Linked DNA regions of Homo sapiens: region 1 is linked to region 2. Evidence: fine-mapped expression QTL. A gene starts in region 2. The other region holds a variant in brackets. All regions are shown on one strand. Distances are from middle to middle. Region 1 overlaps ASPSCR1 (ASPSCR1 tether for SLC2A4, UBX domain containing). Region 2 holds the start of CCDC57 (coiled-coil domain containing 57).

Region 1 (14,738 bases), 220 kb before region 2:
ACACACACATATGCACACACGCACGCACACCTGCACATACCTGCACACTCACATGCACACACGCATGCTGGTGCAGCCCTGCCGGGGAGCCTCCAAGGCCCTCACTCCAGAGTGAATAGGAGGGTAGCCTTCTCCGTGGGGGTCAGCCTCTCCCTGGAGGCCAGGGCGGGGCAGTCACCCTCTCTGTGTCTGGAGAATCAGTCTGGGATTTAGAAGGAATAGTTGCTTTTCTTCCTAAGGAAGTTTCTCATGTCTTATACCCTCCAGGTTCGCATCGCTTTGCAGCTGGACGATGGCTCGAGGTTGCAGGACTCTTTCTGTTCAGGCCAGACCCTCTGGGAGCTTCTCAGCCATTTTCCACAGATCAGGTGAGCATCAGTGGGCTGGGGGCTCTTCCCTACCCTGTTTGCTGGGGAAGCTGCTGTGGTTACTGGGTCTGGTTCAGAGCTGGACACCCAAGCTCTGTGCTGGCCTGTGGTGCCTCTTGGCACTTTGCAGTCCTTTGTAGAGGAGGGGTGTGTGGGCTGCCGGTTCATGAGCAGCAGCCTCGGGGATGGCTGGTCACAGCTCATCGTTCTGAGTTTCCTGGGCCCAGCGGCCCAGCCTTGCCCACCTAGAAGAGCAGGAATGTGCTTCTGTCCTTGTGGGGGCCTGGTGAGCACTAAGGGGAGACGTTCGGTGCTGGGGGCAGGGCTCCCCATGCTTGATTCCCCTGGATGGGATCATAAGGTCTCTTTTTTTTAAGAGGCAGGGTCTCACTATGTTGGTCACCTAGGCTGCTCTTGAACCCATGGGCTCAAGAAATTCTCCCATCTCAGCCTCCCAAAGCGTTGAGATTACAGGTGTGAGCTCCTGTGCCCCACCAGAAAATCTTCCTAATAGTAATTGGATGGCTGGGCACAGTGGCTGGGCACAGTGGCTGGGCAAAGTGGCTTGCACTTTGGAAGGCCGAGGCTGGCGAATCGCTTGAGCTCATGAGTTCAAGACTAGCCTCGGCAACATAGTGAAACCCCTTCTCTACAAAAAATAGAAATGTTAGGCCAGGCATAGTGCATGGTGGTGCGTGCCTGTGGTCCCAGCTATGCCAGAGGCTGAGGTGGGAGGATCACTTGAGCCGTGGAGGCAGTTGCAGTGAGCCGAGATCGCACTGCTGCACTCCAGCCTGGGCAACAGAACGAGACTCTGTCTCAAAAAAATAAATAAATAAAAATAAGTAATTGATGTGTATCAGTTTCTGTCGGTTAATGGTTTAAACGTTGTTCCTGAATGTGTAAAAATTGGTGCTTTGTCAATTTGGGTCTTTTCATCGTTGGCTGGAAGTCTCTGTCCACAGTAAAAGGCTCAGCAGAATGGAAGGGACTTGGGGCTGGGGTTTGCTGTGAGCCAGGGGGTTCTCGCCCTCCCCGGGCCTCAGTTTCCTCACCTGTGCCCCGGCTGGTGTGTGGATGGGGTGAGTTCATGTCTTGAGGACCGAGCATAGGGCCTGTGGGAAGGTGACCGCGCGTCGGGCGCTGGGAAGGTGACTGTGCGTTGGGCGCGCTTGGTGGCCCCAGGGCTGGGCCTGCTCCCGTCTGACAGTAGTGCCGCGCTGCATGGCACGGGTGTTGCGTTCGTGGGTGAGAGCGCTGAGGTCTGCACGTCGGGTCTCAGTGGTCATGGGGATGGAAGCCACCCCAGTGGCTGTCGGGGTGAATGGAGGCCCCTGGAGATGGCAGCGGGTTAAGCACGAGCACGGAATTCTCCCTCCCAAAACGGAACTCAGACAACAGTGACGGAGCCTAAGAGCAAAGCCAAAGCCACGGGCAGGGGTGAGCGGGACCCGAGGCAGGAGATGACGGAGCCTAAGAGCAAAGCGAAGCCACGGGCAGGGGTGAGCGGGACCCGAGGCAGGAGGTGACAGAGCCTAAGAGCAAAGCGAAGCCACGGGCAGGGGTGAGCGGGACCCGAGGCAGGAGATGACGGAGCCTGAGAGCAAAGCGAAGCCACGGGCAGGGGTGAGCGGGACCCGAGCCAGGAGTGGCGCCGGGCAGGGAGGCAGGCAGCCCCAGGCGCTGTGTGGGCACTGGGTGAGAAGCAGGGATCCCGGCGCCCTGGCTCTGTGCTGCTTCCTGAGACGAGAGTGGCAGAGGGCAAGAAGAAAACCAAACAGCGCGGGGAACAGAAGTCAGGAAAGATGAACGTCTGGAAGGAAATGCCCCTGGGCCGGGCGGTGCCCCCGGGCGTGAACAGAATCCAGTGCTCCCACAGGCACAGGTGCTTGGTGAGGGCCGTCCTCCCTGGCTGTGCTGTCAGTCCTCAGATGGGGATGGAGGTAAGGAAATGGCCCAGAGTGGCCTGGGGCTGCCACTGGGGAGGGGCCGAGGGTGTCTGGAGAGGTGGGGCCGGCATTGTGGTAGCATAAGCCTCTTCAACAGACTTTGTAAACCTCGTGTGAAACTTAGTTTAAGAAACAACAGGCTTGGCCAGGCGTGGTGGTTCTGGAAGTGGCTTTGGAGCTGGCTTTGGTGGTGGCTGTGGGGGTGGGTTTGGGCGCTTTGGAGGAGGTTGCAGTGAGCCGAGATCGCACCATTGCACTCTAGCCTGGGTGACAAGAGCAAAACTCCATCTCAAAAAAACAAAAAAACAAAAGAAACAACAAGGCTGGGCACGGTGGCTCACACCTGTAATCGCAGCACTTTGGGAGGCTGAGGCGGGTGGATCACGAGGTCAGGAGTTCGAGACCAGCCTGGCCAATATGGTGAAACTCCATCTCTACTAAAAATACAAAAATTAGCCGGGCGTGGTGGTGGGTTCCTGTAGTCCCAGCTACTCAGGAGGCTGAGGCAGAAGAATTGCTTGAACCCAGGAGGTGGAGGTTGCAGTGAGCCAAGATTGCACTCAGCCTGGGCAACAGAGCGAGACTCTGTCTCAAAAAAAAAAAAAAAAGAAACAACAGAAGTGGCTGGGCGTGATGGCTCACGCCTGTAATTCCAACCCTTTGGGAGGCCGAGGTGGGTGGATCACCTGAGGTCAGGAGTTCGAGACCAGCCTGGCCAACATGGTGAAAACCCATCTCTACTAAAAATACAAAAATTAGCTGGGCGCAATGGCTCATGCTTGTAGTCCCAGCTACTCAGGAGGCAGGAGAATCACTTGAACCCGGGAGGCGGAGGTTGTAGTGAGCTGAGATTGCGCCACTGCACTCCAGCCTGGGTGACAAAGCAGGACTCCGTCTCAAAAAAAAAAAAAAAAACAAGAGCAAGTGGGGCAGCTCTTTCGAGACACCAGGGACAGCAGGAGGTGGTGGGGCCGTTGGTGGTAAAGCCCGGAGCCCCCAGCCTGCGGCCCTGGTCTGTGTGGCAGTGTGGGTCTGTCTGCGGGTGTGTCTGCACGTACACCTCATTTGATGAACACTCACACCTGTGGTGGAGAGTGATTTGTGGCTGACTGTTGTTGCTGGTGAATATGCTGTGGACATCTTCCTGAAGGGTCCCGCACCTGTCACTCCTCACAGCCATGCTCTTCCGTCGTGTGGGTGTCATGTGGGTGTTGCGGGGCATCTGGCTGTGTCTCAGGGCATCCCGGGCAGGGTTGCAGCAGAGTGTGCAGCTGGAGGCCTTTGCACCTGGTCACCCACCCCAGCTTCTCCTGTGGGCTAAATTCCAGAGGTGGAATTTAAGATAGGGCTTCTTCACATTTCATTTCCAGGCCGGGCATGGCGGCTCTCACCTGTAATCCCAGCACTTTGGGAGGCTGAGGCAGATGGATCACCTGAGGTCAGGAGTTTGAGACCAGCCTGGCCAACATGGTGAAACCCCGTCTCTACTAAAAATACAAAAAGCAGCTGGGTGTGGTGGTGAGGGCCTGTAATCCCAGCTACTTGGGAGGCTGAGGCAGGAGAATCACTTGAACTCAGGAGGTGGAGGTTGCAGTGAGCCGACATCACACCACTGCATTCCAGCCTGGGCGACAGAGCAAGACTCTGTCTCAGAAATAAATATTAAATAAATTTCTAAAAGCTCAGACCCAAGCTTTGTCCCAGAAGCTGGAGTTTGCTAACCATGGAGCAGGATATGGACGAGGTTTCATAGTGGGTGGCGTTGCCAGCCCCACGGTGAGGGTGGAGTGCCTGGTGGGCTCTCTGCTGGGAGCTGGTCCCCAGCAGGTCTGCATGAGGGAGGGAGGCTCTCGTGCCTAGTGTCCCTGCACTGGCCCAGGAGGCTTGGGGAGGCCTTGGGAAGTCCAGGTGTCCGCAGAGTGGGACGGGCGGGAAGCTGATGTTTCTTCTTTCATGTGTTTCGGAGGAGGTCTGAGTCCAGGGACAGTGTAGGCGCTGTGCTTCGAAGGGGCGTTCTGAGGCTGGGGGCTGCAGGCCTGTAGCGTGCCCAGGAGTTGCCCTGGGACAGAGCCTGCTTTGTGTATTTGGGGACCCCTGGGTGATTTCCTTGGATGGACACTGCCACGTGTTTGAAACGTTGCAGCTCCACTGCGAGGGTGTCACTGTAGCACGCAGCCCTGGCCCGACCAGCGTCTCAAGCAGCAGGGGCCTCAGGGATACCAGCGAGCCACACGTCGGCCATGGAGGTGACTCACATTTTCTTTTCTTTCACCCAGGCTGGAGTGCAGTGGTGCGATCTTGGCTCACTGCAACCTCCGCCTCCCGGGTTCAAGCAATTCTCCTGCCTCAGCCACCTGAGTAGCTGGGATTACTGGCGCACGCCATCACGCCTGGCTAATTTTTGTATTTTTTTTAGTAGAGACAGGGTTTCACCATGTTGGCCAGGCTGGTCAGGTGATCAGCCCGCCTCGGCCTCCCAAAGTGCTGAGATTACAGGCGTGAGCCACCACACCTGGCCAATCACTCACTTTTTCTTGTAACCGCATTAAAGAAGAAATAAAAACAGGTGTCATTAATTTTAGTAATACGTGTAGTTAACTCAGTATACCCAAAATACGACTTCCTGGACACGTAGTCAGTAGAAAAGTGAGCCGTCTCATGCTCTTGTTGTGCAGAGTCCTTGAGACCTGCATGTATGGTGCACTTGGAGCATCTCGGTCTGGGCCGGGTCCTCGTGGACTGGGCGCTCTCCACTCTGCTTCTCAGGCTCTGCTGCAGGGAGGGCGTCAGGAGACAGAGGCTGCACACTGCTGGCTTCGAGCTTTCCCATTTTCCCTATAGTCTGAAGGTTCTGCCCAGCACAGAGGGGTGTGAACAGCCACGCCGAGCTCTGGGGGACACTGCTCTCCGCCTGCCTGGTGGGCCTGTGTCTGAGTTTGGGATCTTCCACGCCGAGCTCTGGGGGACACTGCTCTCTGCCTGCCTGGTGGGCCTGTGTCTGAGTTTGGGATCTTCCACGCCGAGCTCTGGGGGACACTGCTCTCTGCCTGCCTGGTGGGCCTGTGTCTAGTTTGAGATCTTTATTACGGGGAGTGTGCCTTCCGTGATAGGAGACGCATGAGATGGAAATGAGGATTTCATGGCCTACGGGCCCTGGGGGTACACGGCCCTCCTGGAGGCACCCGGAGGAGGAAAGGGAGTACCTTTCTGACCAGCATCTTTGCTGGGGTACAGATTGTTATGCTAACGGGTTTCCTATGAGGAGTTTCTCTCCATGGGTTTAGAGCCAGCAGGCACTAGCCCCAGGAGGTCATACTGTGACTCGGGGGATACTGTAGCACGTCTGGGCAGTCCACGAGGGCAGGCGGGCGAGTCCCGTAGTTTGAATCCCACGTCCCGTAAGGACCTAGTTGCCAAGTGGTGAAAGGCAGGGGTGTGGATGGACCATGCTGAGCTGCTGGGAGCAGGAAGAGAACCGGGGACTGTTGTGGGTGACCGAGACCTGCCGTGGAACGATGCCAAGGGTGAGCCGTGGGAACTCACACAGCAGCTGAGCCGCTTTCCATCTGAAGACCGTGAGGGAGCAGGGTGGGCTTTCTGTAAATCAGATTCATGAGCTCAGCCATGGAGGGGATTTGTCCTCTCTCAGAGGTGCCCCCGGGCTGTGCTGGCGTGGGCACCCCAGGTGGGAGTGGCCCCCAGTGTGCCCGGCCCCTGGCTGGATCTCTTCCCAGGCCCCCAGCCCTCTGCTCCCAGCCTTGACTCAGTGCTTGGGGGCTGGCTGAGTGCATCTCAGCCTGTTCCTCCTTCTGTAGGTAAAGCCGTGGCTCCGGGAAAGCTGGGTGATTTCTGCAGCCCTCTGGGTGTGCTGGGGTGTAGGGATGGGCTGCTGGTGAGGACAGGGCTCTGCCAGGTGGAGCACTGGCCTGTGGCCACACTCAGGGTGGGTCTGTGCATGCTGCTGGGCCAGCTCAGAGCTCTGCGGCCCGTCCCTGTCCATCCCTGCCCGTCCCTGTTCATCCCTGTCCGTCCTTGTCCATTCCTGTCCATCCCTGTCCATCCTTGTCCATCCCTGTCTGGACCTGGCTGGGTTGAGAAGGCCGGAGCCTGCCCCAGGCTCTCCCAGGCTCTGTCTAGCCGCTTGGCGGCTGGGCTGTCATGTGGTGGGTGATGCCCTCTGCGGGCCTCCCTGAGCCCAGTGGCTCCTGGCCTGCAGCCACAGCTTCTGTTCCCGGCAGGGCGCATGCTGCTGCCTGGGCTCTCGTCAGCACCTGTGTTTGCGCCCGGCTTTGTCATACCCAGACAGGACATGAACACAGAGAGCTCTAGACTCACTGCCTTGTCCCCAGCACACAGCCGCGCCTTGCCGGAGCGGGGCCCCAGCGGGGCGGGGTTTGTGGTGCATAAAGAATATGCCCTCGAAGCCAGCAGCAGAGGCGTGTCTGCCCTCCTGGCCGTCCCGCTGGCTTCTGGCCCTGGCCGGGTGGGGAGCTCTGCTGGCTGGAGAGTGTGTGAGAGTGTGCCAGTACCCTGCTGCGAGCAGGCACCCGCGGAAGCGCCCCAAAGCACTTCTTGCATTTCTGGCTTCGGAGCATGGTGTCTGGTGGCTTGGCCTGGCCTGGGGTCCCCGGGAGGCCCTGGGTCTTGCCCCTGCGGACATTGGGACTTGCAGAGGTCTGCGTGGGGGAGGGGGAGTAGGGGCTGTGTCTCCTCGGGCGCTGGAATTTCCCCCGGGCCCTGGCGTCCTGCACACTGGGCCGGCGTAGAAGGTCTGGAACCGATTGCCCACCACCCCTCCCTGAGATCCCGCATGAGGGAGGGAATCTGATCCCTCTGGAGGAGCCGCACATCAAAGCCGGGCTGGCGTTTGATGTCACGCTGCTGTGCTCTGTCCCTGTTTGTGATTTGAGGTCCCCAAGCTGGCGGTCAGTGCCGGGGAAGGACTGTGAGTTGGGACTCTGGCCACCCCTCAGCCCAGGCCTCCCCAGCCGTAGAGAAGTGGCCTCATGACCATCTCCGGACCCCTGGCCATCTGTGTCATGCTGGGGAGCGGGGACCCTGGGCCCTCCCTGTCCCCCTTCCTGGCCCTGGGGGCTGTGCTTCCTTGAGGCCTCTCTCTGCCTCTGTCCGGGTTCTGCTCCGG[C/T]GCATTTTGAGGCCTTGTGTTTTCCTGAGCCCTGCGTCTCGGGGCCTCTGGGCCGAGTCTCCAGCCATTTGGAGGGAAGGCAAATCCAAGGCCCTTTGTTGGCTGCTCTGTGGGACGGGAGCTTAGGGAGTGTGTCCCAGCCTGTGCGCAGAGGACACCCGCCGTGTGTGTGGTGCGCACGTGCTCCACAGGCTAGAGGCCCTTGGGGAAGGGGCTCCCCTGTAGGCAGTGGACCCAGGGAGACCATGGGGCTAAGTCCACGACCCTGTGGGGCCTCTGCAGCCAGACCAGGCTGTCAGAGTCGGGGCCTGGGTGGGAAAGGGATGCCCCTCCCCCAGGATTGAGGACGTGAAAAATAAAGGCCACGAAACAAAAGAAAACACGTCAAACCCACACACGTGGCCGAGTCCCCAGGTGTCGGGGCTGGGCCTGTCCTGGGTGTGGCACCTTGGGCTTTTCTGCTTGGTCTGTTCTCATTTCAGGGAGGCAAGTCCTGCCCTTTTTTTTGTTTTGTTTTGTTTTGTTTGTGTTTGAGACGGAGTCTCGCTCTGTCGCCCAGGCTGGAGTGCAGTGGCGCGATCTCGGCTCACTGCAAGCTCCACCTCCTGGGTTCACGCCATTCTCCTGCCTCAGCCTCCCGAGTAGCTGGGACCACAGGCGCCCGCCACCACGCCTGGCTAATTTTTTGTATTTTTAGTAGAGACGGGGTTTCATTGTGTTAGCCAGGATGGTCTCGATCTCCTGACCTCGTGATCCGCCCATCTCGGCCTCCCAAAGTGCTGGGATTACAGGCGTGAGCCACCGCGCCCGGCTGAGTCCTGCTCTTTCAAGTAGGTCAGCAGATCCCAGGGTCGGGGCACGGTGAGTGCACAGTGGACCCCTGCGGCCCTGTAAGCACACAGGTGGGTTCAGGCGGAGGCCGAGAGTTCCTGTCCCAGCATCCCGCTCTGTGCATGGATGTGCACGTATGTCTCGACCTGGACACTGCAGCACCCTGCCCTCTGACCCTCCCAGTACCCCCCATCCCGGAGGGTTGCTGCAAGCAGTTTCCAGCCCAGCTGTTACCTAATCTTTATCCCCTGTGTTCTGGTCACCAGCTCAGCCTGTGTCTTCCTGTCCCACCTGAGCCCTTGCAAGGCACACTGGCCATAGGGCCTGGCAGGGCACCTGCATGACCTGAGGCCGGCCCTGGCCTCCCCTTTGCCTAGGCTCTGGCCATCTGCCCCCTCCTCTCGGATTCCCCTCCCTGGAGAGGGACTGATGAGGGGCATCTGCAAGGAAGGCCTGAGAAGGGCTTTTGTTTTTCTCAGTGGGGAGGATTTCACGGTGGGGAGTTGGAAACGCAGAGGCAAGCCCGCCTCATGCAGCAGGTGCCACCAGCAGTTCACATGCTCTGGGGCTGGATGTGACGGCATGTGCCCGTCTCCCGGGCTGCCATGCACATCAGGCATGTGTGGGAGGCGTGCTGCATATACCTGCCCACCCATGCACGGGTCCAGCTGTGCCTCCTGCGGGGCGAGGCTCAGAAAGACACTGGTGGCAGAGTCCGACATGGACTTATAAGCACGGCCTCCCCGGCCACAGGCAAGCGGGCGTGAGCGGAGTGCAGCGCCCCTCCCTCCATGCTTCGGTGACATCAGGCGTCGGCTTTGAAGGAGGACATCAGGCGGTGGAGACAGGGGCACCTCCTCTTAGTGGGCGGCTTAAGATGAAAGCCCAGACGTCGGTACCCTGACTCTCAGGCTCCTGAGTACAGGTGTCCGTGAGCCGCATTCCGGAGCCAGTGCTGCTCGCCCCTCCTGTGCGGTCCCTGGGCCCTGCCGGCAGCTCCACGTCCTGCCAGCGGCCCCGAGACTGGAGGTCTCGGGGGGAGCCCCCAGGCCACGCACCACAGGCCAGGGTCCTTGGGAGCGCCCCCGGCTGTCAGGTGCCTCCTTTTGGTGGTTGTGGGGCGCAGTGGGGCTGAGGTCTGTGGCCTGGGCCTGGGCCTGGGACGCTGTCCTGGGTGGGTGCTGGGTGAGGGCCCCACACCTTTGCTTTCCGAGTCTCCTGCCCCAGGGCCTCCGTGGCACTGGTTGAGCTGCCCTGGGGTACCTGATGGTTTCTTTCCTCTCCTCCCAGGGAGTGCCTGCAGCACCCCGGCGGGGCCACCCCAGTCTGCGTGTACACGAGGGATGAGGTAGGCGGCCTGCTCTTGCTCACCCAGTCCCCGCTCACTTTCAGCCCACTTTCCAACTGGAAAATCTGCTGTCCCGCAGCCGTCTCCAGGGCAGTGGCGGGAGACTCGGGCTCTTGAAAGCACGACGTGTTTCATGGAAAAAGAGGGAGTGGCCGGCCCTCGGAGCCCGGGCTGCCCCGAAACCTCCCTCGGCGCCCTGTTTGTTTTTTCAGCTTCTCTCAAAGCCCAAGAGTCACAAAAGTGGTTTCATTTAATAAATATTTGCTTTGCTCGGTGTTTTGATCATTTTCAAAACCGAGTGTGGCGTGGCGCAAGCAAAGCCCGCCGTGGCGGGACCCTCCTAGCGCTCGTCCCTGGCCTCACAGGGGCCTTTTGTTTCCACGCTGGCTGAGTGCCCTTTGCTGGGGTGGGGGGGCACTGGCCCGGAGGGGCCCTGGGGGGCCAGGACATTCCCCGCATTTATCCCCATTTGGAAGCTCCCTGGCTGGGGCTGTGACGGGGAGGTTCAGGTCTACGTCCTCCCTTGAGGGGATGAGCCACGGGGCTCAGGACCCAGGCCCAGCACTGTCCTGAGGCTGTGGCCCTCAGGGACCCTTACACCCTTTGGCTTTTGTGCTGGGCCATTGACTGTGCCCTCGCTAGAGGCAGCTTCTCCACCCCTTCCTCACAGGTCAGAGTTAGCGTATGGGACGTGGCCAGCCAGGCCCGATCCCTGCCCACCCCGAGCTGAGCACCAGGAATGGCCACCCCCGTGGGTGACAGCACGTTCCTGCCTCTCTCGCTCCGGGCAGTGGGTCCTGGCACCAGGGCTTCCTCCTTGCAGCCCAGCTCTGCCAGCCCAGGCCTCAGTGAGCTTGGGTCCCAGCTGCGGAGACCAGGCTGGGGGAGACACGGTCAGGCATGGGCAGCAGGTCCTGCCCCGGCTGCAGACCAGACTCAAGCTGGGCCTTGTGGAGGGTGTGGACCGGCAGGGGCCAGATGTGGGGGGTGGGTAGGATGGAGGCCAGAGAGGGCACGTGGCCTGTGGTCCTGGTGGTGCCGGTGCCCGGAGGGCTTCCCTGGGCTCTGGGGTCCCGGTGCAAGGCGCACCTGTCCTGGCTGCTCCTCCTGCAGGTGACGGGTGAAGCTGCCCTGCGGGGCACGACGCTGCAGTCGCTGGGCCTGACCGGGGGCAGCGCCACCATCAGGTAAGGGCAGTGCTGCTGGGGCCGAGGAGTCTATTTAGCTAAAAAAAAAAGTGGTCTCAAAGGAAAGGAGAAAGGACACGTGGCAAGTGGGGAGTAGGTGTACCCAGGCCCTCATCATGGAGAGCGCCTGGTGGCCTCTGCCTGCCTGTGGGCGTGGGGGCTGGGCTGCCCCGACCTCATCTCTGTGTCCCCCAGAGGGGCGGTGGATCTTGGGAGGGCGCATGGGGCAGGAGAGGGTGAACCGGGGGCGGGAGAGGGTGAGCCGGGGGCGGGAGAGGGTGAGCCTGGGCCGGGAGAGGGTGAGCCGGGGGTAGGCACCACAAGGTGCTTCCCTTGTCCTCTGGCCCCACTCAGGTTTGTCATGAAGTGCTACGACCCCGTGGGCAAGACCCCAGGAAGCCTGGGCTCGTCAGCGTCGGCTGGCCAGGCAGCCGCCAGCGCTCCACTTCCCTTGGAATCTGGGGAGCTCAGCCGCGGCGACTTGAGCCGTCCGGAGGACGCGGACACCTCAGGGCCCTGCTGCGAGCACACTCAGGAGAAGCAGAGCACAAGGGCACCCGCAGCTGCCCCCTTTGTTCCTTTCTCGGGTGGGGGACAGAGACTGGGGGGCCCTCCTGGGCCCACGAGGCCTCTGACATCATCTTCAGCTAAGTTGCCGAAGTCCCTCTCCAGCCCTGGAGGCCCCTCCAAGCCAAAGAAGTCCAAGTCGGGCCAGGATCCCCAGCAGGAGCAGGAGCAGGAGCGGGAGCGGGATCCCCAGCAGGAGCAGGAGCGGGAGCGGGTAAAAGGGGCTCTAGGCCTTGGGACTTGGGGGTGTCCTTTCTCCTGATGTGTAGCCCTGCGTGGCTTTAGCTGGTCAGCCTGGTGGCGTGGCCGTGATGCGGGCAGAGGAACCCAAACGCGCAGAGGAACCCAAACGCGGGGCTCTGGACAGGAGCCTTCTGACTTCGCCCAGGAAGGAATTTAGGGGTAAGCAGGTGGTAGAGAAAGTAGCTTTACTGAGACGGTGGCTGTGTCTGCTCCGGGATGAGGCCGTGTCCGCTCCGGGATGAGGCCGTGTGGGCTCCGGGATGAGGCCGTGTTGGCTCCATGACAAGGCGGCAACTGTGTCAGCTCCGTGTTGGCTCCGTGATGTGTGGCACAGAGCAGGGCCGCCCTGGGGTGGTGCATGGAGGGCAGCAGCTCAGGGCATGGCCGTGGTCACATTTACATCCACTCAACTACATGCACGTTAAGGGGTGGGGCATTCAGAAATCTCTAGAAAAGGGGTGGTAACTTCCGGGTTATGGCCAGGGAAGGGGGAGCTGGTGAACGCATCAGCCAGTCTTCAATCTGGTCTGGAATCAAGCCCCACCTCCTACCTGAGCAGGGTCACTGGGCTTGTTCTTAGCTTCTCAGGCAAATGATTTTTTTTTTTCTGGGTTTTTTTTTTTTTTTTTTTGAGACAGAGTCTCACTGTGTCCCTAGGTGGGCGTACAGTGGCGCGATCTCGGCTCACTGCAGCCTCTGCCACCCAAGTTCAAGTGATTACTCCTGCCTCAGCCTCCCGAGTAGCTGGGACTACAAGCGCGCACCACCAAGCCCAGCTAATTTTTTTGTATTTTTAGTAGAGACAGGGTTTTACCATGTTGTCCAGGATGGTCTCAATCTCTTGACCTTGTGATCCACCCACCTCGGCCTCCCAAAGTGCTGGGATTACAGGCGTGAGCCACCGCGCCCAGCTCTTTTTTCTGGTTTTAAACCACCTTTACTGAGGCACCCACTTTTTTTTTTTTTTTGAGATGGAGTTTTGCTTCTGTCGCCCAGGCTGGAGTGTGGTGGCGCACTTTCGGCTCACTGTAACCTCCACCTCCCGGGTTCAAGCGATTCTCCTGCCTCAGCCTCCCAAGTAGCTGGGACTACAGGCGTGTGCCACCACGCCCAGCTAATTTTTGTATTTTTAGTAGAGACGGGGTTTCACCATGTTGGCCAGGCTGGTCTCGAACTCCTGACCTCAGGTGATCCGCCCGCCTCAGCCTCCCAAAGTGCTGGGATTACAGGCTTGAGCCACCGCGCCCAGCCTAATTTATTTTTATTTTTATTTTTCATAAAGACGAGGTCTCTCTCTGTTGCCCAGGCTGGTCTCGAATTCCTGGGCTCAAGCGATCTTCTTATCTCAGCCACCCAAAATGCTGGGATTACAATTGTGAGCCACCTCACCAGGCCTGAAAGTTACTTTTTATAATATTGTGGATAGTATCATGCTTCCTGTTACATCTTTGACTGGCTGACTCCTTGCTAGTTCTAGTGGCGTCTTGGTTTCTGTCGGGGCCTCTGCAGACCTTTCCCTTTGTCCTCTCATCGTTTTTCTTCCTGTGTTGCAGCGAATGGGCCTCTGGTGCTTTTGGATCGTGGCGATCTTAGTAGACATCCTTCCTTGTCTTGATCGTAACAGGAATTACTAGTCATTTCTCTGCCAAGGATGATGTGTGCTATAAAAAGCCTTTATCAAGCAGAGAAAGTTACTATTCCTAACTTTCTGACATTTAAAAAAATCTTAAGTGGGTGTTGAACCGTTTCAGTGTTTTCAGCATCAATGGAGATGACCGTATGCTTTATTTTATTGGCTTGTGCATGTGTGTTCATAAGTGAGACAGACTTTTTTTCCTTGCTCTGTCTTCATCCAGTTTGGGAATCGAATTTCACCTGGCTCACAAGGGAGCTGGGCAGTGGCCCCTCTTTTCTGGGTTCTGGAAGTTCTCCGAAGGTTATGGCCACTGCTCACTGCAGACTACACCCACCACTGGGGCACTGGGCCCTTGGCGGGGAGTGCATGCAGGCAGGCGGCCAGGTGCTGACCTCCGAGCATGCCTGTGTGTGGCTGTGGCCTGACCCTCTCCCTCACGCCTCCCCCCAACCGTGGGGACCTCGTGTCTGTGGGGTCCCTGGCCCTGTGGCTGACTTTTCCTTTGTCCCTGTCCTGACCCCGCATCAGAGCCCTGCACCTGGGCTGCTGAAACCTGACTTCCTCAGCTTCCTCACCTGCAGAACTAAGGTGTTCGTGGCATTTATGGGTTTTGTGCCAAAAGAGGCAGACTGGGGGACTGTCATGCGGCTTTCGGTGACAGGGATGGGAGGAGGCTGTTTCCCAGCCCCTGTGTCCCCTGAGGGCCAGGCTGCCAGCTGCCAGCCACAGCCCAGGGGCCAGGTCAGAGCTTCTTGAGCTCCTGCTGACGTAGTGGGCCTGGAAGGCCCCCATGCCTCCATCTCCTGTGGACATTTAAAATATTTGTGTCTGGGCCTGTGGCATGGTGGCTCACACCTGTAATCCCAGCAGTTTGGGAGACCGAGGTGGGCAGATCACCTGAGGTCAGGAGTTTGAGACCAGCCTGGACAACATGGCAAAACCCTGTCTCTACCAAAAATACAAAAATTAGCTGGGTGTGGTGGCAGGTGCCTGTAATCCCAGCTACTCGGGAGACTGAGGCAGGAGAATCTCTTGAACCCGGGAGGCGGAGGTTGCAGTGAGCCGAGATCGTGCCACTGCACTCCAGCCCGGGTGACAGAGTGAAACTCCATCTCAAAAAAAAAAAAAAAAAAGAAAACAAGAAGTGGCCAGGAGGGCTCTGTGCACATGGCCCCGGCCTCGGCTGTCCCCTGGGCACTCGTGCTACGTGTCCCGGAACTCAGGTGAGGTCAGGAGTTTGCTTCCTCCTCCTCTGGCCACTTCTGAGTGAAGCAACCTCATGCCTCCCTCTTGCCTCCCGGCCACACACCTGGGAGGGCAGAGGCCGGGCGTCTGCACCGTGTTGGATGTGGGGGCTCCCATCTAGCCCGGCGTCAGGGTCCAGCCCCTCTGTTTTCTGTCCCCCTGGCTGTCCTGGGACTGTTCCTGTTGAGTGGACAAGGGAGTGGGGAGTGAGGGTGTTGGGT
Region 2 (14,738 bases):
ATCATGCAATCTTATCTGGCCTCAAATGTGCCCGCGACTCCTGACCATTTTCAAAATAAAGTCCGATCTCCTTGGCACAGCGTATGAAGACAGACCGAGGACACGGCCCAGCCTGCGTGGCTCCAGCTGCTCCCTGCAGGCCCAGAGCAGCCTTTATCTGCCAGTTCCTGTGCACGTGCTACTCCAGGTCCCCATGCCCCCATCTCCCCACTGGGTGAGGTTCCTTCCCACCAGGTCTCAGGACTCAGCGGGTCACCCTGTTTTCAAAAGCTTCAGGCAGCCAGGACAGGCAGATGGCACGTACCACCCCCTCTATGTGAGATGGGTGCTCCCAGGCCTCTGTGCTCTGCACAGAAGAGCAGCCTGAAAAATCCATACAGCAAGTGACTCGGTGCAGCACCCGGTGAGAGCCCAGCATCTCCAGCGCTTTATCCATCACACTCAGGACCCATAAGAAGCCCCACACACCAAGGGCCTGTAAGTCAGCCGGGCTCGGCTCGCCTTTCCTTCTGACCTCATCATAGAACGGCCTGCTCTGTTTCTGTACAAATCCCATCTCGGGATGATCCCCAAAGCCCCAAGGCTGAGATTAATTGGCTTTCAAAAGCACGGACTCAGCATCTGGACGCAATCTGCCTGTCGGCCAGCAGGCGTCCCCAGCAAGCACCTGGTTTCAAGAAGGACCATGAAGCTTCCGGGTTGGGGAGCGGCAGGAGAAGCCGCCGGGGAGGGAAGGCCTCGCTGTGCGTTCACCCTCTTTCAGGAGAACCAGTGGGGCTCCCTGAACCAGCCAGCTCCCAGCAGGGGCTGGAACAGCATGGGTGGGCATCCCATCACTTTGATTTTCTCATTTTAAAAATACTGAGCTGAGCTAACGGTGATGTTGTAGGTTTACCTGTTGTGGTACAATGACACATCATGGTTTTCTTGCACAGTTCCTGGCTCATAACTCTCACACGTCACAGTCTTTTGTTGCAATGTTGGGCGTGTCAGGCCTCAGGAAACAGAATCCTTCCAGGTCTCCACTCTCACCTGACTTTCCATTGTAGGTCATAAGATCCTCCCCAGAGCTCCCACCCTCTACCCTGGGGGAAGGAATGCTGACTTCAGGAAGCCTCCCTAAACACCCAAGAGGACAGGGTGTGGAGAGGTTCCTGGGGAGTGGTGGGTGGGGTGTGGGGGGGTCCTCCAGGAAGCCTCTTCCCCCATATCTCCCCTTACGCATCTCCTCATCTGTATCCTCTGTAATACCCTTTATAATAAACTGTTACACGTATGTGTTTCCCTGGGTTCTGTGAGTCACCCCAGCAAATCAATCGAACCCAAAGAGGGGGCTGTGGGAACCCCAACTTGAAGCCAGTGGTCAGTCAGAAGTTCCGGAGGCCAGGACTCGCGACTGGTGTCAGAAGCGGGCAGTCTTTGAACCACCATTGCAAAATTATAACTCAGACAGTGAAAGAGATCTGACCTAACCAATTCCATCGTGCTTCTAACCTCCAAGCTCTCCTTGTTCATTCCTGGGTGTAGGCCGAACTAAGTTTAGGAGGAACTTAGTTTATAGTTTGAAACAAAGACAGTAACAGCCCTTTCCCGAAACAAACCCCCTTTTTGCCTGGGGACTAGACTGCCTTTGTAGGACTAACAAATTAGCCAAAAGATTAGAAATTATGGTTTAGGGCCAGGTGCAGTGACTGGCCCCGGTTGTCCCAGCACTTTGGGAGGCTGAGGCTGGATCACTTGAGCCCAGGAGTTCGAGACCAGCCAGGGCCACACGGCAAAACGCTGCCTCTACCAAAAATACAAAAATTAACTGGGGCGTCGCTTGTAGTCTCAGCTACCAGGCAGGCTGAGGTGGGAGGATCGCTTGAGCTTACGACGTTGAGGCTGCAGTGAGCTGTGATTGCACCACTGCACTCCAGCCTAGGTGACAGAGTGAGACCCTGTCTCAAAAATAAAAAAAAAAAAACAAAAAAGAAATTATGGTTTAGGAGTCATGCAGCTACAGGCTACAAGATTCTGACCTTCCCCAAATTGTTCCTGGGGTAACATCACTATTGTAAAACCTAAGATCAATCAGTGCTTGAGATATTTTGCAGACCCTGCACTCCATGGATCAGCTGGCACCCCCGGATTGATAAACTGGCTCATCCGATCTTGTGGCCCCCACCCAGGAACTGACTCGGCGCAAAAGGACACCTTCGACTCCCTACGCTTTCATCTCCAACTCACTGGCCCCCTACACACTAAGTTATCCTTAAAAACTCTGATCCCCGAATGCTTGGGGAGACTGATTTGAGTCATAATAGAACTCCGTTCTCCCGCACAGCCGGCTCTGTGTGACTTACTCTTTCTCTATCCTAATTCCCGTCTTGGTGAATCGGCTCTGCCTGGGCAGCAGGCGGGGTGGACCTGTTGGGTGTTTATGTCTTGGGTGTTTATGTCTTGGGGACTGAGCCCTCACCCTGTGGTCTGACCTCTCTCCAGGCAGGCGGTGTTGGAACTGAACCGAAGGACACCCGCCGAGTCTGCGGCAGAACTGACTGCTCATGTGCTGGTGAAAACCTCCCTCTCCCACCACATTTGATCACAGAAGTCTTCCTCTGTGCTGATGATTCTTGTGGTATCAGAGTAGAGGAAAAACAGTTTGAGTTTTCCAGAAATACCTGTGAATAAAATACACATAAAATAAAATCTACTAAAAATACACAGAGAAGGGGTTTCTCCATGTTGGTCAGGCTGGTCTGGAACTCCCAAACTCAGGTGATCCACCTGCCTCGGCCTCCCAAAGGGCCGGGCGCAGGTGTGAGCCACTGCGCCCAGCCCAAATATATATATTTTTATGACCTCCATGTATAAATATATTTAATACCCTTAACTTATTATTATTATTTTAGACAGTCTTGTTTTCTTGCCCAGGCTGGAATGCAGTGGCGCGATCTTGGCTCACTGCAACCTCTACCTCCTGGGTTCAAGCTATTTTCCTGCCTCAGCCTCCCAAGTAGCTGGGATTACAGGCGCCCGCCACCATGCCCGGCTAATTTTTGTACTTTTAGTAGAGATGGGGTTTCACCATCTTGGCCAGGCTGGTCTTGAACTCCTGACCTCGTGATTCACCCGCCTCGGCCTCCCGAAGTGCTGGGATTACAGGCGTGAGCCACCGTGCCTGGCCTAATACCCTTAACTTATAAGACACTTCCTGGGACTGGAAGGCAGGTCTGGGGTGGCTCATTCACTTTGTACTCAGGACAGAGGACTCAATCTCAGCATCCTGAGTAGCTGGGACTACAGGCAGGCACCACCATGCCCAGTTAATTTTTTTTTTAAATTTCTTGTAGAGATGGGGTTCCACTATATTGTCCAGCCTGGTCTTGAACTCCTGGCCTCAAATGATCCTCTCACCTTTAAATGTACTGAATTTAGCTCTTGTGGCCCCTCTTGGATTCCAGAGAGTGCTGCTAAGCCCTCTGGGAGGCCAAATTCAGTAATCTACTCTTTTGTTTTGAAACAGAGTCTCAGTCTGTCACCCAGGATGGAGTGCAGTGGCACAATCACAGCTCACTGCAGCCTCGAATGCCCATCTAAAAGCTACAGCTCAAGCGATCTTCCCACGTACTTATAGGTGTGAACCACTGCACCCAGCCTCTCATCTACTCTTTAAATAGGTCCAGGGGACAAAAATTATGTACCTGTGACCCCGTGTTTTTTTTCACTTCCTCCACTGACTGCCGAAGAGTAGCCACAGCCATTTCTAAAACTGAAATAAGAGAGATGGGCAGTAGGTCTGAATTCTGTCAGTGGCACTTGCTGGAGAAGAGGGGCACCACTACCACGAAGGAACATGAAGGGCTGTTTTCTTTGAACGTGCATTTGCCAAAAAAAAGTGAGTAAGTGAGAAATAGAAGTTGAAGTCGAAGTCTTGTAGTTGAGTTTAGACTTTGCGGACTTTTAGAACCACGTATACATGTTTCATGTGCCAAAAACAAAGCACAACAAAAAACAAAAAAACTTAAAATCAGTAAGGACTCAAAATGAAGTAGAAACAGGTGAACCTAACTTGATTACAAGTGCGTAACTTGTAATAAACTCACAGGTTTTTTTGGTGTTTGTTGTTTGTTGAGATGGGATCTCACTCTGTCACCCGAGCTGCAGTGCAGTGGCATGATTATAGCTCACTGCAGCCTCAAACTCCTGAGCTCAGATGGTCCTCCTACCTCAGCCTCCAGAGTAGCTGGGACTCAGACACACGCCACCATGGCTGGCTAATTTATTTTGTAATTTTTTATAGAGATGGGTGTCTCACTTTGTTGGCCAGGCTGGTTTCCAACTCCTCACCTCAAGCGATTTTCCCCCCTCAGCTTCCCAAAGTGGTGGGACTACAGGCGTGAGCCACTGTACCCAGCCAGTTTTTAATATATACAGAGACACAGATATACTGAAATAGATTTGCATGTGTATAGTGTATAGAAACACGTTTCCTACTCTATCCATTAAGAAAGCCAAGAAGAAATGGCATCCCAGTAGCAATATGTCTATCTGGTACTGGGATCTTGGTTTCTAAACACTACCTTCTAAACTAAAAGGAACCAGGGCTCCTTGGAGAAATGACTGATTCTGGGATATGTCAAGGCAAGCATAAGATAAGCCTGAATTCTGTGATGCCAGAAAGAAAGAAAATGCTCCCAGAAGGTTGGGACGTGCTATAAGGACAGAGAGGCCAACTTGAAGGGGCTCCTAACACCTCAATCTGGATAATGTGAGCAACAAAGTACGTGATAGCGATGGGTTAGAATCCATGGAATAAAAAGATGCACTAACACCGAGACCGCGCCCCTGCAAGCCAGCCTGGGAAGAGATGGTTCTTTCTTATAGGAAAATCCCAACTAATAAATGTAGGAGTAATGGAAACAGAAAAATCATTTAACAAATAGCACATTAACAGTTATTTTGGGGAAACACTCATGGGTGCTAAAATTAGTGACAGAAGTATGGTTAGAAACAAGATCTTGCTGGGCGTTGTGGCTCAGGCCTGTAATCCCAGCACTTTCGGAGGCCAAGGCGGGCGGATCACTTGGGGTCAGCAGTTCGAGACCAGCCTGACCAACATGGTGAAACCCCGTCTCTACTAAAAATACAAAAAAAAAAAAAATAGCCGGGCATGGTGGCAGGCGCTGGTAATCCCAGCTGCTCAGGAGGCTGAGGCAGGACAATCACTTGAACCCGGGAGGCAGAGGTTGCAGTGAGCCGAGATCAAGCCACTGCACTCCAGCTTGGGCGAGAGAGAGAGAGACTCAGTCTCAAAAAAATAAAATTAATTAAAAAAAAAAAAAGGCCGGGCACGGTGGCTCACACCTGTAATCCTAGCACTTTGGGAGGCCAAGGTGGTGGATCACCTGAGGTCAGAAGTTTGAGACCAGCCTGGCCAACATGACGAAACCTCGTCTCTACTAAAAATACACAGATTAGCTGGGGGTGGTGGTGGGCGGCTGTAATCCCAGCTACTTGAGAGGCTGAGGCAGGAGAATCACTTCAACCCAGGAGGCAGAGGTTGCAGTGGGCCGAGATCGCGCCACTGAACTCCAGCCTGGGCGGCAAAGAGAGACTCCGTCTTAAAAAAAAAAAAAAAAGAAAAAAAAAAAAGAAAAAGAGAGAAAGAAAGAAACATCATCTTTTACATAGTGGCAAGATATTTCCCCACAAAATATTTATTATTTACAAAGGGAAGGACCCTAACTTTATGGACACACTTGGCAGACACCACCTCAGCCCCCAGGACGTGACTAGCACCAACAGCCAGGGGCATCCTGTGTCTCGTAAGACGCTGGGAAGGGCACAATTTCCCTGTTGAGGTTTTCTTGCCAAAAATCAGTAATATGAAATCAATTATGACAAAACATCAGAGAAATGCCCCCGAACTGGGGGGCATTTTATAAAATAGTGGACTCATCATTGGATCCTGGACCACGGTAAAGTCATCCATGAGGTAGCTGCTAAGCAAGAATAAATACTGGAGACCAGATCATGGGATGATACCAACATGAACGCCAGCGTCTACATGTTGCTGAATGAACTGTGGTTCTCTAAGAGGTCAGCATTCTAGGGGCTCTGGGCAAAAGGCACACGGGAAATCTGTGCTCCTTTTGTATCCTTTTTCTAAGTTACAGATAATTTTTTTTTTTTTTGAGACCGAGTTTCGCTCTTGTCTCCCAGACTGGAGTGCAATGGCGCGATCTTGGCTCTCCGCAACCTGCGCCTCTCGGTGTGGTACCCTACTTTGTTTTAACCTGACTGACTCTCTCTTAGCTGAGAGGGCCGGACAGACACCATTTTGGTTTCTTCGCTTGCAGCCCCTTGTCCCCGTCCCTTAAGGACATAACTGGGGCAAGCTGACTCCAAGCACATCCAGGAATGCGCTTACTGATAAAATACTGATAAGAAACTGGAGCAAGCTGTACCAGCAGCTCCTGGGAACGCGCTCGGTTGATGGTACCCAAAGCCCCTGCGTTTATCACTTTGTGATAATTTAAGCCCCTGTACCTGGAACTGTTTATTTTCCTGTAACTGTTTCTGTAACCATTTATCTTTTAACTTTTTGCCTATTCTGCTTCTGTAAAAAAATCGCTTCAGCTAGCCTCCCCTCCTCTATTTAGACCAAGGTATCAAAAGAAATCTAGCCCCTTCTTCGGGGCCGAGGGAATTTGCAGCTCTAGCAGTCTGTCAGTCGCTGGCAATACAGGACTCCTGAGTAGTCTCAGAGTGTGGCGTTCTCTCTATAACTCCCTCAGTTACAACATCGGGTTCAAGCGATTCTCCTGCTTCAGCCTCCGGAGTAGCTGGGATTACAGGCGTGCACCACCACGCCCAATAATTTTTGTATTTTTAGTAGAGAGGGGGTTTCACCATGTTGGCCAGGCTGGTCTCGAACTCCGGGCCTCAAGCAATCTGCCCGCCTCTGCCTCCCAAAGTGCTGGATTACAGGCGCGAACCACCGCCTCCGGCCTTTTTTTTTCCTCTCTTTTTTTTTTTTTTTTTTTAAACTCACAGACACTGTAAGGCTGCCTGGGCGCGGAGCCGTCCTTGCCGGCGGCGGAACCCGGGGAATTCTCCCGGGGCTGCGGGGCCCTGGTCGGCAGCGCCCACCGCCCCAGGTCACCCACGGGAGACCGAGGGAACGCTCCCGCTCCACGCGGCCGCAACCCCCGCCCCGCCCCGCCGCAGCCTCCGCGAGGGGATCCCCGGTCCGGGCCTGGCCGAGCTCTGAGGGTCGACCTCGCGCTCCAGGTCCCCACCAAAGCGCTGCGTCCGACAGGACGGCAGCTGCTGGGGTTTTCTACAGGAAGAGTGGTCGGAGCGGCGCCCCCCACGCCTCCCACGCCTCCCACGCCGCCCGCCCGCACCTCACCCTAACGCCCGCCAGCAGCGCTGGCCAGGTCCCGCCGCGTTGCCACAGCGACCGGGTCAGTCGGCCGCGTCCGGCTGCGCTCGGTGCAGCGCTCGGGTCCCGCCGACAGGAAACGGGGTCCCTGGCGCTAGGTTCCGGCCCCTCCCGCCCCGCCGGGTTCCGCGCTGCGCCCGGGTCCGAGGGGCGCCCCGGCCGACCCGACCACCGCCGCAGATCGAAGGAGGGAGCCCGGCCTCCTCACCGGTCAGCGGGGCGACTCCGGACGGGGCTCCGGGCTATGGGGACGGCGGGTTCCGCCGCGCGAGGCGCCCCCACCTTCGCCGCCCCCGGCCCGGCCGAGGGTCCCCAGGCGCCCGCTTCCTGAGGCCGCCCGGCTCGCGGTCCCGAAGGGTTGACTTGAGCTTTTGCCCTGAGATGAAGGGAGCACGGGGCGGCCGAGGCTGCCCGTGGGGGTCTGTTCGGGCCGGGGGCGCCACGAAGTCCTGCCTAAGGGTCGGCTGCGGCCACCGGGGCACGAGTTCCCGGCGCTGCCCACGGGCTCGGAGACCGGCGGGGCCCAGGGGCCGTGCGCGCGGTCGCTCAGACCCTGATTAGGGAACTGGGGGAAGGAGGGGGGTCGGGACCCACCGAGGCCCGAAGTCGCCCCCACCATCCTGTGGGAACAACATCCTCAGGCACAGCCATTCCCAACCATTCACATCCTCAGAAAAAGGCACGTGTCCGTATCCATCTGCGGATGGATGAACAGAGCCCGGCCCCGGGACAGAGCAGCCTGGCTCACCCGAACCCTCAGCCCGCAATTCTGCGTGGGAGTGGAGGGGGTGTTTGGTGTCTGGGAATTCCCCTGGTGGGGCAATAAGCCAGGGGTCTGGTGTCATCCTCCACCCACATTGTTAACACTGGATCACTCCTCTCCGTGCCGTGCCTGCAGCCCAGGCACCCTGCAGCCTGTCCTCCCCGAACCATGCGTCCTGGTAGAGCTGTCTCCCTCGCCCACAGTCCTCAGTCCCGCCTCACACACCAAACCCTCTTCTGCCTCAGGTCCTTTGCGCCAGTTGCCTCTGCCTAGACTTGGTTCCCTGGATGCCCCCTCCCCACCCCATGTGTATGTCCGGCTCCCTGGACCCACCCCCCACACTGTGTGTCTAGCCCCCTGGACCCACCCCCCACTCTGTGTCTAGTCCCCTGGACTCCCCTCCCCACCCCCTGTGTCTAGCTCCCTGGACCCCCAACCTGGCCCATGTGTCCAACTCCCAGGACCCCCCCACCCTGTGTCCAGCTCCCTGGTTTCCCCCACCACCCCATGTGTTTGGCTCCCTGTCCTGCTGCCTTCTCAGTGCTTGTGCACCCCCAGCCTCATCAGACTTGTCACTCTATTAGAACAGGATGTAGGGCCTGGACTGTTGGCTCCCTGCTACCCCCACCCACAGGACAGTGCTGGGGTTGACCCGACTTTGGCTGCACATTTGACTGGCCCCTGGATCAGCTCTAGGACTAGATGTACCCAAAAGGATGCCCACATCCTTGCCTCAGCTCCTGCCTCTGCCCACCCAGAGAGCTGCCTTGCCCCCATGTCCACGATGCAGCCACCAGGCCTGGGTAAGCGTGGGTGTCCGAGACGGGCTGGGACACCCAGAAGAGGAGCCAGGACTTGCTTGGTCTGTATCCCGGCTCTGCATGCCTCAGTGTCCCTGCCTGTAAAGTGGGATCTATGGGAACCCATGTGTGGGCCGGGCACAGTGCTCACACCTGTGAACCCAGCACCTTGGGAGGCCAAAGGGAGGATCCTTTGAGCTCGGGAGACAGGGTCTCGCTCTGTTGCCCAGGCTGTAGTTCAGCGGCGTGATCTCAGCTCACTGCAGCCTCCGCCTCCCAGGTTCAAGCGATTCTCCTGCCTCAGCTTCCTGAGTAACTGGGATTACAGGCACTTGCCACCATGCCCAGCTAATTTTGTATTTTTAGTAGAGATGGGGTTTTGCCATGTTGGCCAGGCTGGTCTCAAACTCCTGACCTCAAGTGATCTGCCTGCCTCGGCCTCCCAAAGTGCTGTGATTACAGGTGTGAGTCATCATGCCTGGCCAAAAAAAATTTTTTTAAATTAACCGGGTGTGATGGCACATGCCTGTGGTCCCAGCTACCTGAGGCCAAGGTGGGAAGATCACTTGAACACAGCACTTCGAGGCCACAGTGAACTATGATCGCGCCACTGCACTCCAGCCTGGGTGACAGAGCAAGACCCTGTCTCCAAAAAAAACCCTCTAAACCTATGTGTTATGGATAGGGCCTCTAAGAAGGTAATTAAAGTTACGTGAGTCCTAAGGGTGGGACCCTGAACTGTTGTCCTTAAAAGAAGAGGAAGAGACACCAGGAGTGAGCACACAGAGGAGAGGCCACATGAGGACGCAGGGAGAGGGTGCCGTCTGCAAGCCATGGAGAGGCCTCAGGAGGAACCCACCCTGCCGGCAGCCTGATCCCTGACATCCAGACTCCGGAAGTGAGAAAATAAATGTCGTTTAAGCCGCCCAGGCTGTGGTGTTGAGTTATGCGGCCCTAGCAGGTCATTTGTCACGTCATGGGTATCTGGACCTGGAATCGTGTGCTGGCCCAAGTCAGCAGCATGGCACCCATGGTCACCCCTTCAGCTGAGCCACATGCCCGGGTGCCCCAGGGACAGAGCAGGGTGTGCCACGGGCACTGCCTGGTTCCTGAAGCTGTGGGGCAGGCCGGTCTGGCCCTCACAGCCTGTGCTCTGATTCGAGGGCCGTTCCGTTGGGTTGAGCTCCACGGTCCCAGAGCGCCCGCCGTCAGCTCAGGCCCGAGGCTACACCTACTGAATCCCCCCAGCACTGCAGCACCCCTCCCCTTCCTTCCCTGCCCCCCACACTGCAGCACCCCTCCCCCTCCTTCCCTGCCCCCCCCACACTGCAGAACCCCTCCCCCTCCTTCCCTGCCCAGCTCCCCAGCTGGGCTCCACCTGGGCACCCTCAGTGCGGGTGGCCGGGAGTTGGCTGAGGGAGACCACATTCCCTTCACTCCTGGCCTCCAGCACCCAGCAGGACTCACAGGTGGAAGGCAGACAGGGTGTGAGCCAGGGCCTGGGCCGCCAAAACAAAGAACCCCAAACTGGTCCTTTCTTCTTTCCCAGTTCAGGAAAGCTGAGGATGTCGGCCGGGCCATGGCCCCTCCAAAAGCCCTATGGGAGAATCCTTCCCACCTTGGCCTCAGGTAGCTGGGACCACAGGCACCTAACCCTTCCAGCCTCGGCACCCTTGGCTGCAGCCACATCGCCCCCTCCCGCCCCTATATCCACCATCATGCGGCTTCTCCTGTGTGTCTGTCTCCATGTGCTGCCCTTCTTAGGACGCCATCACGTTGGAGCAGGACCACCCAGCCAATTACGTCGGCGATGACCCTATTCCCAAGCCGCATTCTAATGGACCAGCGGCTACGACTGGATCCTATTTCTTTGGGGACCACCATTCAGCCCTGGACCTGTGTGGGGCTGACAGCCCCCAGTGCTGGCTCCCCCAGGCCGTCCTGCAACCACCCTCATCATGCCACGACAGTGGAGGCCGAGGGCCCTTCCTGGTGCCCCGGTGAGTGACACGGCCAGGACCTGACCCTCCCATGCCTCTGTGGCAGAGCAAGGTGGGTGGGGAACTGGCTGTCCTGCTCCCAGCTGCGTTCCTGGCACCTATGCCCCACCCACCCAGACACACATCTGGGTGTCAGGCAGCCGCATGTCACTGAGTGGGGTAAACAAGGGAGGGTGAGAGGAAGGTCAGAAGGCCATGGCTGAGGGCGTAAGTGTGGGCTGAGGCTCTTGCTTCCCAGAACACAGACTGACCTTGGTGGCAGACCTCACCATGGGAGCCCCCAAAAGCTGCTTGCTTGAGGCCTCCAGGCCTCTTGCAGGGCCCTAAAAGCACAGGGATCCAGGACAAGAGGTGCGGGGGCCCCCGCCTGGGCACCAGCCTGCATGGGCCAGAGCAAGCCACTTCCTCTCAGGTTTGGGGAATGCCCACGTCAGACTTGCAGAGGCAACTTCTCCATCTGTCTGGCTCACAGGCCCTGTGGCAGGAGAGGAGCCAAGAAATGAAAGGGCCCGGTGGGTGTGGGCGGGCCCTGCTCCGATCTGGATCTGGCCAGTGCCTGTGGCACGCCCTGCTCTGTCCCTGGGGCACCCGGGCGTGTGGCTCAGCTGAAAGGGTGACCATGGGCACCATTTGCCTGGCTCCCAGGTCCTGAGGCCAGAGAGGAGCCAAGAAATGAAAGGGCCTGGTGGGTGTGAGTGGGCCTCAGTGTCTGGCTGCTCCAGGAGGAGGGGGGTGGGCACTGACTCCTGCCTGAGGGCTGGAGGCAGGGAGGCTCCTCTGGACAGGAAGACCCTCCAGGAACAGACCAGCAAGACTGGCACTGTCCAGATGGGACCAGGAGCCGGACAGCGGCGTCAGACATGCCCCACAGCGGCCGTGACCACAGCCACTTCCTGGAGGTCAAGACCTGGAGGCAGGGCCAGTGCTGCCAGGGATCCTGGTGTGGACACGGGCAGGACCAGGGGATGCTCCCTCGAGGCTGGTGTGGAACAGGCCGTGCTGCCCAGTGGGTGGGCACCCAAGGGGGCTCCAAGCCAGGCTGTCCTCCCAAGGCCGGCTTCGTCCAGAAGGAGAGGAGCCAAGGTGCCCCGGCATCCACCTTCCTCGGCTGCCTTGTCCACTGCAGGGACAGCAGCCTGTGAGCAGGAGGTGCTTTGAGGGAGCTGGGGGGACCCTGGGGGACACACGGCATTTCCACACTGTAACCACGTCACGTAGAGACCACAAAGTCCTCCTGTCTTGGGGTAAAAGTGAGGAAACTGAGGCTGGGGAAGCTAAGGGGCTCACGTGGCCTCTGGAAGGGACGGGGCTGGACCCCGGCCGCCGACAGTGTGAAAACAGCGGTTCCTGAGCCAGTGTTGCGGCAAGGGGCAAGGGACAGGCACTGTCAGAAGCCCCATGCCCCTCCCCAACCCCCCAGGAAGTTCCACTGAGTTCTCAGTGCTGAGTCACTGGCTGCGGGGCCTGCGGTCCTGGCCGGACAGGAAGGTTGGGCAAGGCCTTGCCCTCCCCCTCAGGCGAGAGGCACAGATCCTGCCACACAGCCCGGCCCCACTCCCCAGGCCCCCGGCCCCATAGGCCTCTAGCCACAGCCTGGCTGCTGTCCTCATGTCCTTGGCTCTGGCCTGGTGAAGGCCAAGGGCACTTCAGAACCTCCCTGTGCCTCCATGTGCCAGGTTGGGGCTGGGCACGAGGCCACAGCAGGGGCTGGCAGGTGGTGACCTCTGCTCCTCGACCTGGGATGCTCCAGGTTGAGACGTAGGGTAGCTGCAGTCCCAGCAATGACAAGCTCTGGGTAACCCTGGTGAGTGGACGGCCAAGGCGAGCCCAGCCTCAGTCACTGGGGGGTGGACGGCCAAGGGGAGCCCAGCCTCGGTCACTGGGGGGGTGGACGGCCAAGGGGAGCCCAGCCTCGGTCACTGCGGGGTGGACGGCCAAGGGGAGCCCAGCCTCGGTCACTGGGGGGGTGGACGGCCAAGGGGAGCCCAGCCTCGGTCACTGGGGGGGTGGACGGCCAAGGGGAGCCCAGCCTCGGTCACTGCGGGGTGGACGGCCAAGGGGAGCCCAGCCTCGGTCACTGCGGGGTGGACGGCCAAGGCGAGCCCAGGAGGTCACTGGAGGAGGAGAAATGCAGGAAGAAGGCAGCTGTCAATAGCGCAGGGGTGCACAGAGCCCTGAAGGAGCCATGTGTAAGGTGCCGAGGGTGTGTGCAGGTGGAGCTTGGTCAGGGAGGCCGCACCAGGACCACCAAAGCAGGTGATACCTGAATGATGTTCTAGGCCAAGGAAGAGAGGACAGAGGCCCGGCCAGGGCTAGAGCATAAACCAGGCTGGTGCTGACCACGGCAGAAGGGCAGAAGGTACCCTCCGGCTGTGCGTGGAGAACGGGCAGCAGGGACGAGGGCCTGGGGCCAGGCTGGTGGCACTGGCTGTTCCCGAAGCCCGTCACTCACCTGCATCTGTTCCATCCAGGCGCTGGGGTGGGCAGGACACCAGGATGCCAATGGCTCACTGAGCCGCCGGGGGCACCGCTAGGGCTTGGGGACCACGGGACTTGCCACTGGACATGGGGGTTGAGGATAAGGGAGAGAAAGGCTGAGGCAGCCCCGTGTGAGCCCAGCAGGACTGAGGGTCTCGGAGGGTCTGGGCTCTAGGACGTTTCGGGGTTACCGTGAGAGGAAGCTCCTAAGGACCGTGAGAGTGGATGGGGCCACCCCAGGCAGGTGTGGGCAGGGAGGAGAGGAGCAGGGATGGGGCCCATACATTGGGCTCAGGAGATGCAGGGAAGCCCCCAAGCTGCAGAAGAGGAGGACACCCGGGACCAGGCAGGGCCTGGAGGCCGGGGCAGCGATGGAGCCCTGCTGGGCCTGCAGGTCTGAGGCACTTGGGGGTTGGCCTGGAGGCCTAGGGAGGGGGTGTGGGGCAGCAGCACACTTTGCTGGTGCCACCTGGGAAGGTGCCCACCCATCTCCAAGGGGCGGGGGAGGAGCTAGTCTGTGCGGTGAGGGTGACACTGTCCCAGTCACCCTCCCCTAGACAGCAGGGAAGGTCCGGTCACCCCCAGGCACTTGCAGGCCGTGGGGGCTCCCCAGGAGCCAGTGGCCGCCCGTAGGGTCTCGCAGGCCAGAGGCCTCGCTCCCTGGGCCTGCTGTGTCTCTGGAGGCCCCAGCTGGCAGGGGGACCAATGGGGCCCTTCCCCACCGCCTCCCAGGTGCCGGTGGCCGCCCCTGAGCAGGGGGTTCTGGGGCCCCTGCCTGGACTGCTCCCCCACTGCTTGGCCCCGCCTCTCAGTCTCGGACTTGGGGAGGAGCAGCCAGGCCAAAGGGTGCAAAGAGGGGGCTGGGGGGCTGCACTGAAAGGCGGGGGGTCTGCGCTGAGAAGGGTGGCTACAGGCGAGCATGGGCTGCGCTGTTCCCACCCAGCCTTGAGTTCCAGTCTTGACTCCTCTCCTTCCACACTCCAGTCCTGCCTCCATGGCAGACCCAGGGCCGACGTGGGCTCCAAGGAGGGCAGAGGAAACCCTGACCCCCCAGCCCCCAGCTCAAGAGGAGGCAGGGGTGGGACACAGGGCAGGTGGAGCAGAGAAAGGCGAAAAAACGCACTCCAGGATGCTGGACGCTCAGGGCCGGGGGGGCCCTTTCACAGCAGGTTGGGGGGGCTCTCAGGGCCACACTTTGCCCAGCCTCCAAAGGGCTGAGCCAAGAGGAGAGGGCAGTGTCCCCACCCATCCAGCCACCTGCCACC

What was found. PIP is the estimated chance that this variant, and not a neighbour inherited with it, causes the effect.
Region 1: its variant is the best candidate, but not a certain one, in a credible set for the expression of CCDC57 in whole blood (TOPMed, PIP 0.54).

What each region holds. Positions count from the first base shown.
Region 1 is chr17:81,985,240-81,999,977 of GRCh38, forward strand. ASPSCR1 (ASPSCR1 tether for SLC2A4, UBX domain containing) reads left to right here. Exons shown (of 16, transcript NM_024083.4): 4 at 268-368; 5 at 9,582-9,639; 6 at 10,753-10,826; 7 at 11,181-11,607. Among named protein-coding and RNA genes, the nearest start is that of ASPSCR1, 15 kb to the left of the region's middle. RefSeq lists enhancers at 4,528-5,237, 5,948-6,655, 8,784-9,491. The variant C/T (reference allele first, on the strand shown) is at 7,461.
Region 2 is chr17:82,205,386-82,220,123 of GRCh38, forward strand. CCDC57 (coiled-coil domain containing 57) reads right to left here and starts at 7,457. Exons shown (of 19, transcript NM_001394669.1): 1 at 7,400-7,457. It also overlaps a transcript of SLC16A3 not described here. RefSeq lists enhancers at 1-605, 382-561, 7,868-8,810, 9,728-10,022, 11,084-11,363 and 4 more and a silencer at 6,998-7,917.